Homo sapiens: one gene and its partners. The protein of the gene in region 1 purifies or fractionates together with the protein of each later gene. This does not show direct contact. Each region holds a gene or a part of one and is shown in the gene's direction. Other genes may lie near its edges.

Region 1 (3,058 bases):
TTCTTATTTCATATCATGGATGAAAAAAATCAAGATGAATTAAACATGGAAATTAAAAATAACTAGAAGAAAATACTGGAAAAAAATTGTAATAAATGTGTAAGAAAGGCATTCCCAACCAAGACACAAAACCCAGTAGCCATGAAAAAAAAGATAGATTTGACTACATTTTTAAAAAGTAAAACCTTTCACTTTTTACAAAACTTTGATAAAATTAGATTTCATAAATAAAGGAGTGGGAAAATACATGTAATAGAACAGAAGATTTAAGATAATATAAAGAGCACCTACAAACAACAAAAATTGGACAAAGGCTATAAAAATATTTTATAAATAAGAAATACAGACTATAAACATAAACTTTCAACCTCGTAAGCAATCAGGAAAATTAAAGTTAAAATGAGATACTATTTTTCAATACATTGAAATGGCAGATTATTAAAGATTGGTGATAGTGCTGGAGATAATGTGAGGAAAGGAGTATTCTCAGTCATTGTAGAAATTGATACAGCTTTTGGATGGACAGTTTGACAGTGTGTATCAACATGTGAAATGTCTCCAGCCTTTGATCTAATGACTAATTTTAGGCATCCAGCCTGAAGAAATATTCACACAAGTGCCCAAAGAGTCAGATACAAGACTGTGTGAAGTGTTTTTTGAGATAATAAAAAACTAGAAACAGCATAAATGTACAGAAATGCAGAAATTGTTGAATTAGTACATACCAATTTCTGACATATAACACTCTGCAGCAGATAAAGACAATAGCTCTCTAGTGTGGACATGAAAATATTTCTAAGACATTGACAGGACGAAGAAGTTGCACAGTAACCACGCACTCCTGTTTACATTTGTATAGTTAAAACTTGTTTACCTATACGTAGCATATATGCGTGTGTGCACCCTAGAAAAGAGTCTGTGATAACACATATCAAGCTATTGACAGCGGTTTTGTCTGCTGAAGGAGGAAAAAAGGGGGGCTTCTCACATTTTACTCCATTTAATTCTAGGTTGTTTGGTTTAAAAAAAAAGTTTTTATGTACAACAGACAATTTTTAAAATTCCTTTTCATCATAGAAAATGAAAATGTGTACTCTGTTATCCTTTACGCTCTGTCCATTTTTTTCTTCAAAAATGTGTCTGACCTATTATCAATGTGAATGAAAATGAGCTTTGCTACATAACCTCTTTTCAGAGCTTTGTATTCCTGAAGTGTTGGAGTCGCCTACATGGCATAGTCAAATGTTTTTAACTTAACCACAACCCACAGTAAAAATGAAGCTTTCTGCAAAGTTAAAAGTAGTAGTCCTGGCCCCACCTTCCTTGTGTGCACGTATAATTAATGGAAAATTGCATCAAACAACTCTGATTGTACTTCTAGTGACTAATTCATGTTCTGTTCTATTCCTTGCCTTTAAAGAAAATTATGTTGGCAACTCACGAAGTATGTTTCACAATCCACTAATGGGTAATGTCCTACTGTTTGGAAACACTGGCTAGAGTGTTTCAAACATCTGCTCTGTTTACCCCTGACAAAACTGCTACTCGTGGGGCAATGCAAGTCTTTCCCACATTTGTTTTATTTTATGGCTAAAAGTCATTTCTGCATTTGCAAATTACTTCCAAAGCCTACCTTCCTTGAGCTCTTTAACTCTCTATAGTCTTCTGGTAATTTTCTTTAGATTTCCCTTTTCAGAACCCTTTTGTGACACTGAAAACCTGAGTTTTCAAACTGATACATCTACCTGAGAATTTTCACATATAATTTGGTCAAAAAGTTAAAAAATAAGAAGACTTTGCCCTGTGACTGAGGTGCTCAGAAGGTATGGCTGGCTGCTCACAAAGGCACATAGTGAGTGATAGGGGCTGAAAGGGCTCAGAGAATGCCCGAGTTCTCTTAGTACAGTTTGTACATTTTAAACCACTGTGAACTGAAAAAAAAAAAAAAGGCAACCTTGGTAGTTTAGAAATAGATAAGGACCCACTTATAGATTAAATAATAATTAGCTTGTTCCAGAGAGACCAGTGAAGATTAGTTGGTTTATTTAATGTGTTAGAAAGATGGTCCTCAAAGTCCTTGAAATGTGAAGGCGGCTTTTATCTCCTTAAGAAAACAAGAAAACTCCACAAAATCTTGAAAGCTAGATAATCCTAGCTTAAATGATAAAATTTGAGTAGAGTTTGAAAACACTAAAATCAGTTTGCCAAATAACCAGCTCTAATTTCTTTATACCAAAGCCAAACTTCACCTAAATCTTACCTAAGAATTGAGTTCCTTATTGTAACCAGATAGGAGACACTTTTGTATATTATTCCAAATATTGCAAACCTACAAGGAGTAAAAGGTGTTATTATTTTAAAGAAGAAGGAATGAGGCCTGAGAGGTATTGATTCACTTGGTTGAGGGCTTCAAGTAGCACAAGGCAAAAGCAGGATTTGTTGACTTCCAAACCTGTTTTCTTCCTTCACCATGTGGCCTTTGCATCTTTCCCACACAAATATTATTCCACAAATATTTATTGTCACCAACTATAATAAAAGAACAGAACTATGTATCAGAGAGGCTGCAGGAGTGAGTTCTACCCAGGTCCACACTGCTGCTCACAGTCAAGTAAACTGCAGGCCGTTTTTGTGATGCCTGGCTGGAACGGCAAGTGAGGCATGGTATTCATTGGCTGGGCGCGGTGGCTCACGCCTGTAATCCCAGCACTTTGGGAGGCCGAGGCGGGCAGATCACGAGGTCCGGAGATTGAGACCATCCTGGCTAACACGGCGAAAACCCGTCTCTGCTAAAAATACAAAAAAATTAGCCGGGCGTGGTGGCGGGCGCCTGTAATCCCAGCTACTCGGGAGGCTGAGGCAGGAGAATGGCGTGAACCCGGGAGGCAGAGCTTGCAGTGAGCCGAGATCATGCCACTGCACTCCAGCCTGGGTGACAGCGAGACTCTGTCTCAAAAAAAAAAAAAAAATGGTATTCATTTTCTCTTCTTTAGGGACACCTAGGCTTATATCACTTTCTACAGTTGCTCTCTTTTCCAATTCCAATTTAGTTGGTATA
Region 2 (3,500 bases), on another chromosome or scaffold:
ATTGTTATAGGGAAAACCCTAATTACTTCTTACTTCTTTGTCACTCGGAGTAAAATTTCTCCTGTTGAGAAATATTCCTTTGGACAAAATCTCTCTACAAAATAGAGCCAAGAGAGGGCAGCGATTTGCCCAACTTTACAATGTTTTTGGAATAGTATAAGTATGCTGAGTTTTAGCTTGGCATTGTTTTCATAAGTCTCATATATCACTAGTTTAGCAGAGAACCATTAATATATTTATAAGACATTTTTGTGAGGTAGGTTTTTTTAAAAAAAAATTAAAAACACCAAACTCTACCCAATAAAGCCATAAATATTTAATTGGAAAACTTAGCACCAAATGCTAATTTTCTAAGATAGTGCCTTGAAGAAATAAAAATTGCATTAAATTAAAAACTCTACTTTCCACCTAACTTTATATTCAGTTACCATGACCTAAATATGGTTACAATATCCATTTTGCTTGTTTCTTTTAAAAGGATTTTTTAAATTGAGATTATTAGATTGGCGTTTGTGAGCCTCCACACAAATATAGCATGCAATTTTCAAATTAAATAATTTTCTCTATGTTTTGCAAGTTTTAATTCTGAAAAGTCTGTGTGCACATACCATTCTGATAAAATGAGGGATAATATTTTAATAATTTGGGCAGTAAAAATTGTTCATATCTATAAAAGAGAAATAGAGTAGATAGTTATGAGTAATTAATATGAATTATAGCACAAGTATAAGGGATACATACATCCTAATCATACTTTGAGTGGATCAGTGTGCTTGGTTGAACTGAATCATTCACTTAGTACATACATCCTCAGTATGTACTCAGAAAAGAGAATTTAAAGCCAAAAGGATACAGCTTTTCCTAAAACAGTAAGGTGTTACTATATAGACAGGAAATGCAAATATTTACTTTGAAAAATAGCTTGTGAAGCTTGGCATAATGTTATCTCATTAAAAAATATGACCAGGGATATAAAGTTGCTTCATTCTGTATATCAATTTTTTCCTTCGAAATTGTAAAGAACAAAGTTTTGAATATCTAGTTCTTCTAGGATTTGTTTTATCAACTGAAAGTAGCAGCGGCCTTTATATATTAGCCAATGTGAACAAAGGACAAGAAAGAATATTTGTAGTTTGTTTTGTACATTAAAAAAAGTTAAATTGGTGAAAATTTAAAATGAATGAATGTAGTCTCTAAAGAGACTCTCCATCCAAAGTGTTTCAATAGTTAAGTAATTGAAATATAAAGTTTAATGATCCTATAGTGCTAACAGTGCTGCTATTAGGAAAATGGCAGTAAAGGTGACAATATAGGTGTATATTTTCCAAATATTTAATATTTTCATTACTTTCTTCAAAATTGAGCAAAATTTTAAAAATATACTGGTTTTCAGTTCAGGTTATATAATTTCTTTGACTGTTATGCAGTGGGTGGTATAAACCATTTCTAACAACTTTTATTTATGGACTATGTTAGGTCAGGTTCAAACAACTGGTATAAAGTAGACCACTTAACTTCTTTTCACACTTTAGATATTGATATTCTTCAGTGTGCTAAGTGAATTTCCAAGGACTACTAAGCATAATGTATATATAAAGAGGACTCTAAGGAAAGCAGACCCAGTTACCTTGAGTTTAATTAACAGTTTATCGACATACAGCTATAGAAAACAAACTTTATTTAGGTGGCTGACTACAACTGTGTCATGGTACAATGTTATGATTGAAACTGTATTTGTATATTTAAATAGGATGTGTGTGTGTTTGTATGTGAGTTTATCCATGTATGTATGTCTGTATATATATATGTGTGTGTGTGTTTGTGTGTGTGCATATAAAGACAAAATAGAAACATATTTCCATCAGAATTAATGTCCATCAAAATTAATTAAATTTTTTTACGACAATTTAAATTATTAGTAACAAATATTTGTTAAAATCACCAAGATTTTTTAGTTAGGAATATGGCCCTTAAGGTAAATGTATTATCATATCTGAAAAATTATAAGTATCGTCAGGTGCAGTGGCTCATGCCTGTAATCCCAGTAATTTGGGAGGCCAAAGTGGGTGGATTACTTGAGGTCAAGAGTTTTAGACCAGTCTGACCAACATGGTGAAAACCTGTCTCTACTGAAAATACAAAAATTAGCAGGTCATGGTGGCGCACAGCTATAATCTCAGTTACTAGGGAGGTTGAGGCAAGAGAATCGCTTGAACCCAGGAGGCAGAGGTTGCAGTGCAAGATTGCACTACTGCAGTCCTGCCTGGGCAACAGAACAAGACTCATCTCAAAATAAACAAATAAAATATAAATTATAAGTATCTTACATCTATGTAGTCTAAAATTCTTTTTCAAAAAACAAAATTTAACATAGTCAAGTCTGTATTTGTACTACATATTGCCATTTTTTGTGTTGCTTTAGACTTGTCACTTCGTTTCTCTGTGACGCATCTCTCAAACGAGTGACTCAGCTAGCACAGTGTTTCCCAACACAAAGCAATTCTCGGATTAGTATAAAGTTTGTAAAGTCTCTATGGTCATTCTCAGAACTGAAAAAGCAGGATGAGCTGTGGAGAAAAAGACTGAGCTACTTACATTCATTTGTCAATGAGAAAAGAAAGAACTTCTTCAGTTACTAAAAACTGGGGTGCCCAGGTGAGCAGCCATACAATTTCTTTATGCTTGAGGGGAAAATATGTAACTCACGCATACACATGTGTGAGCACATGAGTGCACACTCCCACACACGTATATGTCTTTGAAATTCTGCTAAGTAACTAGATATTTTGAAAGCACTTAAAACTATGTCTGCTTTTTAAAAAATCGATTGTCTGAATTAGGTCCAATTAAAATCTATTTGTGAATAGAGTTTTCATTAGAATTCACAAATGGTAGTGGTGAAGAGTGACAGCTGCCAAAAAAAGACCGACATAGCTAATTTAGGAAAGATTTTAAACTGACAATAAATGGCCCTTTTCTTTTTCTAGAATTAGCTGGTATTAGCATCTCACGGACAAGGTTTTCATAAATGATTGCTCTTGAAGACTCCCAGCTGAGAAGTCTGTGGTCTTAGGAATGTGTAGCTTTTGACACACCCCAATAATATCCACAGGATACCAGAATTTCCTTCTTGAGACTTTTCTGTGTTTATAAAATGTAATCATCCCTAGTTCTTCTCAGGAATTGCATTTAGAGATAGTTTTATGCTTTAGGAGTTGCTCAGTAATATTTTCACTGGGGACTTGGTGACTCATCTGAATTTTCATGTCTCTAGAGTTTCATGATTCACTAAATCAAAGTGAAGCAGAAGCAACCTGTATATCACTAGACACTGAGAGTTTTGAAAAACCAGTATGTCTTTTGATCAGTGAAAAGCATGAAGTGATGTTGAATACATTTTAAAAATTAAAATTGCTTTTTATAGTACCAGAAGAACCATCATTCATTGAGTCAGTTTAATAAAATCTCAATATTCATGAAAGGAAAAAGAAATTACAGGG
Region 3 (3,500 bases), on another chromosome or scaffold:
TTTTTTTTTTTTTTTTGAGACAGAGTTTTGCTCTTGTTGCCCAGGCTGGAGTGTAGTGGTGCAGTCTCGGCCTTGCCGCAACCTCCACCTCCCGGGTTCAAGCTATTCTCCTGCCTCAGCCCCCGGAGTAGCTGGGATTACAGGCATGCGCCACCATGCCCAGCTAATTTTTTGTATTTTTAGTAGAGACGGGGTTTCTCCATGTTGGTCAGGCTGGTCTCGAACTCCCGACCTCAGGTGATCCGCCCGCCTCGGCCTCCCAAAGCATTGGGATTATAGGCATGAGCCACCGTGTCTGGCCATTTTACTTTCTTAATAAGCCCTTGCCATGTAGAATCTGGCTTTACCTAAATCTATGCAAACCGTGAGGTGCATCTTGAAAGCAGCAGTTAGGGTCAAACAGGTAGGGTCCAGGATCATCTGAAACAGTCTTGGATAATGAGGTTGGAGGATATGTGTTTTCTTTATATACCTATCCTCGTAGAATCTCCTTTGCTTGAGGTGATGTGAAATGGAGTTAAGGAAAGCAAAGCAAGAGAATGTGGCTGAGTTAGCTGGGGTTCTGCATCCCCTGAGTTTTCCTTTTTTTTTTTTTTTGAGACGGAGTCTCACTCTGTCGCCCAGACTGGAATGCAGTGGCACGATCTCCGCTCACTGCTAGCCCCGCCTCCCGGGTTCACGCCATTCTCCTGCCTCAGCCTCCCGAGCAGCTGGGACTACAGGCGCCCGCCACCAAGCCTGGCTAATTTTTTGTATTTTTAGTAGAGATGGGGTTTCACCATGTTAGCCAGGATGGTCTCTATCTCCTGACTTCGTGATCCACCTGCCTTGGCCTCCCAAAGTGCTGGGATTACAAGCATGAGCCATCGTGCCTGGCTTTTTTTTTTTTAGAGACAAGCTCTCGCTCTGTCACTTAGGCTGGCATGCAGTGGTGCAAACATAACTGACTGAAACCTTGAACTCCTTGGCTTAAGAGATCCTTGAACTCTTGAACCACTGTGCCTGGTTTATCTTTTTCTTTTTTTTTTTGAGATGGAGTCTCACTGTGTCTCCCAGGCTGGAGTGCAGTGGTGCAATCTTGGCTCACTGCAAGCCCCGCCTCCCAGGTTCACACCGTTCTCCTGCCTCAGCCTCCTGAGTAGCTGGGACTACAGGCTCCCGCCACCACGCCTGGTTAATTTTTTGTATTTTTAGTAGAGACAGGGTTTCACCATGTTAGCCAGGATGGTCTTGATCTCCTGACCTCGTGATCCACCCGCCTCAGCATCCCAAAGTGCTGGGATTACAGGCGTGAGCCACCGTGCCTGGCCTTTTTCTTTTTTTGAGACAGAGGCTCACTCTGTAGCCCAGGGTGGAGAGCAGTGGTGCCATCATAGCACACCGCAGCCTCAACCTTGGCTTAAGCAATCCTTCCAACTCAGCCTCTCAGCTAGGACTGCAGGTGTGTGCCACCACATTGGGCTAATTTTTAAATTTTTTGTAGAGATGGGGTCTTGCTATGTTGCCCAGGCTGGTCGCAAACTCGTGGACTCAAGTGATCCTCTTGCTTTGGCTTCCCAAAGTGTTGAGACAACCGGCATGAGCCACCAAGTCCAGCGCTGAAACTTTGCTTTCTAATTGTTACTACTAGTGCCATGTTTGACACTAACTGTTGCTAACTGAAGTAATAGGTAAAAGTTTAGTTTTTAAGTTCTAACTTTATTTATTTGTTTTTTGAGACAGAGTCTCACTCTGCTGCCCAGGCTGGAGTGCAGTGGCGTGATTTCAGCTCACTGCAACCTCTGCCTCCCGGGTTCAAATGATTCTCATGCCTTAGCCTCCCAAGTAGCTGGGATTACAGGCGTGTGGCACCACACCTGGCTAATGTTTGTATTTCTAGTAAAGATGGGGCTTCACCATGTTGGCCAGGCTGGTCTCGAACTTCTGGCCTCATGTGATCTGCCTGCCTTGGCCTCCCAAAGTGCTGGGATTACAGGGAGCCACCATGCCTGGCCTTAAATTGTAACTAAGGTAAGGGTCACTGTCCGTAAGCAGGATTTAAGGGTAACTGGTAGGAGTGAACCTAGCCTGTTTCTGTGACTGTTCTGTTTACATTGCTGCCATTTCACATGGTTTAGATTGACTCCCAGGTTTTAGGTGGTCAGGTTTGGAGAGAATGACATCTCATTTATACAGTGAGGTTGACAGACTATGGGCGTGAAGTGGTTGCTTTCAAAATTTGGTCTCTGATTTATTAACTTACATTTTCTTCTTTCTGAGGCATTGTTTAACCTTGAATTTATTTAGCCTGCTATAAAAAGCTGGTGATTGTACTTACCAAGAAATAATTTTTTCTAAGTTTAAAAAAAATTACTCAGATAATATTACAGGTCTGCAGACAGGTACTTTAGTATAGTTATATCAGAATCTTAGAGGGTGAGGCCTGAGCATAGGAATTCCGTAAAAGCTCATCTGTGTGATTCCTATGAACTGGCAAGATTGAGAATCATTGTAATAAGATAAAAGTGGGGCCAGACCCCATGGCTCATGCTTATAATCCCAGCACTTTGGGAGGCTGAGGTGGGAAGATCACCTGAGCCTGGAGGATCGCCTGAGCCCAGGAGTTTGAGACCAGCCTGGGCAACATAGTGAGACCCCCGTCTGCACAAAAAAATTTAAAAATTAGGTCGGGCCTGATGGCTCACGCCTGTAATCCCAGCACTTTGGGAGGCTGAGGCTGGTGGATCGCTTGAGCTCAGGAGTTTGAGACCCATCTGGGCAACATGGCAAAACCCCGTCTATATCAAAAATATAAATTAAGCCAAGAATGGTGTATATGCCTGGAGTCCCAGCTACTTGGGGGGCTGAGGCAGGAGGATTGCTTGAACCCAGGAGTTGGAGGCTGCAGTAAGCCGAGATCATGCCACTGCACTCCAGCCTGGGTGACAAAAGTAAGATCCTGTCTCAAAATAAATTTAAAAATTAGCTGGGTGTGGTGGTGCACACCTGCAGTCCTAGCTGGGAGGCTGAGTTGGAAAGATGCTAAGCTGAGGTTGAGGCTGCAGTGTGCTATGATGGCACCACTGCTTTCCACCCTGGGGGAATAAAACATGCTGGGCATGGTGGCTCATGCCTGTAATCCCAGTACTTTGGGAGGCCGAGGTGAGTGGATCACTTGAGGTCAGGAGGTCGAGACCAGCCTGGCCAATGTGGCGAAACTCCATCTCTACTAAAAATACAGAATTAGCCAGGCGTGGTGGCTCATGCCTGTAATCCTAGCTACTTGGGAGGCCAAGGCAGGAGAATTGCTGGAACCCGGGAGGTAGAGGTTGCAGTGAGCCGAGATTGCGCCACTGCACTCCAGCCTGGGCAATAGAGTGAGACTGTTAAAAACAAAAAAAAGATAAACCAGGCATGGTGGTTCATGCCTTTAATCCTAACAGTTTGGAAGGCCGAGGCAGGATTGCTTGAGTCCAGGAGTTGGAAACCAATCAGGGTAACAAAGTGAGACCCCAACTCTA
Region 4 (3,500 bases), on another chromosome or scaffold:
TGGTGGCGCGCACCTGTAATCCCAGTTACTCAGTAGGCTAAGGCAGGAGAATCACTTGAACCTGGGAGGTGTAGGTTGCAGTGAGCCGAGATCGCGTCACTGCACTCCAGCCAGGGCGACAGAGAGACTGTGTCTCAAAAATAAAATAAAATAAAATAAAGCGCTCACTACCTTCAATACACTTGATATTTGCAAATCAATCCTATTTAGTTCCATTAAAAAAATGCTAGCTCCAATCCACGATATTGTTTTGTTTTGTTTTAATCTACTAACGGGTCATGACTACACACTTGATAATATGATGCTGGTTGACTCCTAACGTCCAGCTTTAATACGGTTTGTTTCTCTGGTTAGTTATAAATGAAGTTAGACTACGCTTTAGCTTTTATTTTAGATTTGGGTTGTGGGGGATACACGTGCAGGTTCGTTACATGGGTATATTGCATCATGCTGAGGTTTGGGCTTCTGTTGAACCTATCACTGAAATAGCGAACATAGTACCCAGTAGGTTGTTTTTCAACCTTTACCCCTTACCTGTCACTTCCCACCTTTTTTTTTGAGATGGAGTCTCTGTCACCCAGGCTGGAGTGCAGTGGCTTGATCTAGGCTCATTGCAACTTCTGCCTCCCAGGTTTAAGCGATTCTCCTGCCTCAGCCTCCCGAGTAGCTTGGACTACAGGTACGAGCCACCATGCCCGGCTAATTTTTTGTATTTTTAGGAGAGATGGGGTTTCACCATGTTGGCCAGGCTGGTCTCAAACTTGTGAGCTCAAGTGGTCTGCCCACCTTGGCCTCCCAAGGTACTGGTATTACAGGCGTGAGCCACCACGCCCGGCCCTTTCCCACTTTTGGAATCCACAGTATCTTATTTTCATCTTTATGTCTATATTTACCTATTGTTTAGACCCCACTTACAAGTGAGAGAAGGTGTGATATTTGATTTTCTGTTTCTGCATTAATTTGCTTAGGATAATGACCTCCAGCTGCATCCATGTTGCTCCAAAGGACATGATTTCATTCATTTTTATGGCTACGTAGTATTCCACGGTGTATATGTACCACATTTTCTTTATCTAATCTACTGTTTTTTGTTTGTTTGTTTGTTTTGTTTTGTTTTTGAGGCAGAGTCTCGCTCTGTTGCTCACGCTGGAGCGCAGTGACGTGATCTTGGCTCACTGCAACTTCCGCCTCCCGGGTCCAAGCAATTCTCCTGCCTCAGCCTCCTGAGTAGCTGGGATTACAGGCACATGCCACCATGCCTGGCTGATTTTTGTATTTTTAGTAGAGATGGAGTTTCACTATGTTGGTCAGGCTGGTCTCAAACTCCTGACCTCATGATCTGCCCACCTCGGCCTCCCAAAGTGCTGGGATTACAGGCATGAGCCACTGCTCCCGGCCTATCTGATCTACTGTTGATAGGTACTTAGTTTGATTCAATGACTTTGCTGTTGTGAATAGTGCTGTGATAAACATACTAGTGCAGTGTCTTTTTGATAGAATGATTTCTTTTCCTTTGGATAGATACCCAGTAGTGGGAATGCTGGGTCTAATGATAGTTCTAAGTTCTTTGAGAAATCCCTCTACTCTTTTCCACAGGGGTTGAACTAATTTACATTCCCACCAGCAGTGTATGATACTCCCTTTTCTCTGCATCCTTGTCATCTGTTATTTTTTAACTCTTTAATAATAGCAATTCTGACTGGTGTGAGATGGTATCAGTGTGGTTTTAATTTGTATTTTATTGATGATTAGTGATTCTGAGCATTTTTTTCATATGTTTGTTGGCCACTTGTATGTCTTCTTTTGAGAAGTATCCGTTTATGTCCATTGCTCACTTTTTAATGGAGTTATTTTTTTTTTCTTGTTCATTTGTTTGAGATTCCTTGTAGATTCTGGATCCTAGTCCTTTGTCAGATGTACAGTTTGCAAATATTTTTTTCCCATTCTTTAGGTTACCTCTTTACTTTGTTGATTCTTTTGCTATGTAGAAGCTTTTTAGTTTAATTAAATCTTGTTTATGAATTTTTGTTTTGTTGCATTTGCCTTTGAGGTTTTAGTCATAAATTCTTTGCCTAGGCCCATGTGCAGAAGAGTTTTTCCTAGGTTTTTTAAAATAGGATCTTTATAGTTTGAGGTTTTATGTTTAAGTCTTTAATACGTCTTGAGTTAATTTTTGTATGTGGTGAAAGGTAGGGGGTCCAGTTTCATTCTTCTGCACATGCTAGCCAGTTTTTTTGTGTGTTTTTTGGGTTTTTTTTTCTTTTTAGCACTGTTTATTGAATAGGTGTCCTTTCCCCATTTTTGCTTTTGTCAGCTTTGTTCAAGATCAACTGGTTATAGGTGTATGGCTTTATTTCTGGGTTCTCTATTCTGTTACATTGATACAGATGTCTGTTTTTGTATTGGTAACATGCTGTTTTGGTTAGGATATCCTTGTAGTATAGTTTGAAGTTGGGTAATGTGATGCCTCCTGCTGTGTTCTTTTTGCTTGGCTATTCAGGCTCTTTTTTGGTTCCATATGAATTTTAGAATTGTTTTTTCTAATTTGTGAAAAATGATGTTGCTAATTTGATGGGAATAGAATTTTTGGATTGTTTTGGGCAGTATGGTCATTTAAATTTTGATTCTTCCAATCCATGAGCATGGAATGTTTTTCCATTTGTTTGTGTCATCTGTTATTTCCTTCATCAGTGTTTTGTAGTTCTCCTTGTAGAAATCTTTCACCTCCCTGGTTAAATTTATTCCTGGGTATTTTATTTTTCATGTGGCTATTATAGATGGGATTGCATTTTTGATTTGGTTCTCAGCTTGAACATTATTGGCATATAGAAATGCCACTGACTGTTGTAAGTTGATTTTGCATCCTGAAACTTTACTGAAGTCTTTTTCTTAGGTCTAGGAGTTTTTTGAAGGACTCCTTAGGGTTGAACAGAGATAATTTGAGTTTCTCTTTTCCTATATGGATGCCTTTTTTTAAATTTTAATTTTCTGCCTGATTCCTATGGGTAGGATGGAAAGTATTATGTTGAATAGGAGTCGTAAGAGTGCACATCCTTGTCTTTTTTCAGTTCATAGAGGGGATGCTTCTAACTTTTGTCCATTCAGTGTGATCTTGATTTTTTGGAGTAGTTTCAGTAAGATTGATACCAGCTCTTCTTTGTTTGTCTGGTATAATTTGGCTGTGAATGCATCTGATCCTGGTCTTTTTTTGGTTTGTAGATTTGTTTTTATAACTGATTCAATTTTGTAAATTGTTATGATCTGTTCAGGATTTCAGTTTCTTCCTTGTTCAATCTTGGGAGGTTGTGTGTTTCCAAGAATTTATCCATTTCCTCTGGTTTTTCTAGTTTGTGCACATAAAGATGTTCATAGTAGTCTCTGAGGCTCTTTTGTATTTTTGTAGTATGAGTTCTGTCACCTTTGTCATTTCTGATTATGCTTCTTAGGATCTTCTCACTTTTTTTTTTTTTAATTTACTTAGAGGTTTATCTATCTTGCTT

The links. The genes of interacting proteins can lie anywhere in the genome.
Region 2: the proteins of CEP78 (region 1) and LRRTM4 purify together in Homo sapiens (co-immunoprecipitation; one large-scale study listed by IntAct). This does not show direct contact.
Region 3: the proteins of CEP78 (region 1) and RNF10 purify together in Homo sapiens (co-immunoprecipitation; one large-scale study listed by IntAct). This does not show direct contact.
Region 4: the proteins of CEP78 (region 1) and CEP350 purify together in Homo sapiens (affinity purification with western blotting; one study listed by BioGRID). This does not show direct contact.

Annotation. Positions count from the first base shown.
Region 1 is NC_000009.12:78,277,133-78,280,190, forward strand, and holds the end of CEP78 (centrosomal protein of 78 kDa), read left to right. Parts: 3' UTR 1-2,558; downstream 2,559-3,058. UniProt on the Homo sapiens protein: Centriole wall protein that localizes to mature centrioles and regulates centriole and cilia biogenesis. Involved in centrosome duplication: required for efficient PLK4 centrosomal localization and PLK4-induced overduplication of centrioles.
Region 2 is NC_000002.12:77,512,377-77,515,876, reverse strand, and holds part of LRRTM4 (leucine-rich repeat transmembrane neuronal protein 4 isoform a precursor), read left to right. Parts: intron 1-3,500. UniProt on the Homo sapiens protein: May play a role in the development and maintenance of the vertebrate nervous system. Exhibits strong synaptogenic activity, restricted to excitatory presynaptic differentiation.
Region 3 is NC_000012.12:120,540,856-120,544,355, forward strand, and holds part of RNF10 (E3 ubiquitin-protein ligase RNF10), read left to right. Parts: intron 1-3,500. UniProt on the Homo sapiens protein: E3 ubiquitin-protein ligase that catalyzes monoubiquitination of 40S ribosomal proteins RPS2/us5 and RPS3/us3 in response to ribosome stalling.
Region 4 is NC_000001.11:179,961,310-179,964,809, forward strand, and holds part of CEP350 (centrosome-associated protein 350), read left to right. Parts: intron 1-3,500. UniProt on the Homo sapiens protein: Plays an essential role in centriole growth by stabilizing a procentriolar seed composed of at least, SASS6 and CPAP. Required for anchoring microtubules to the centrosomes and for the integrity of the microtubule network.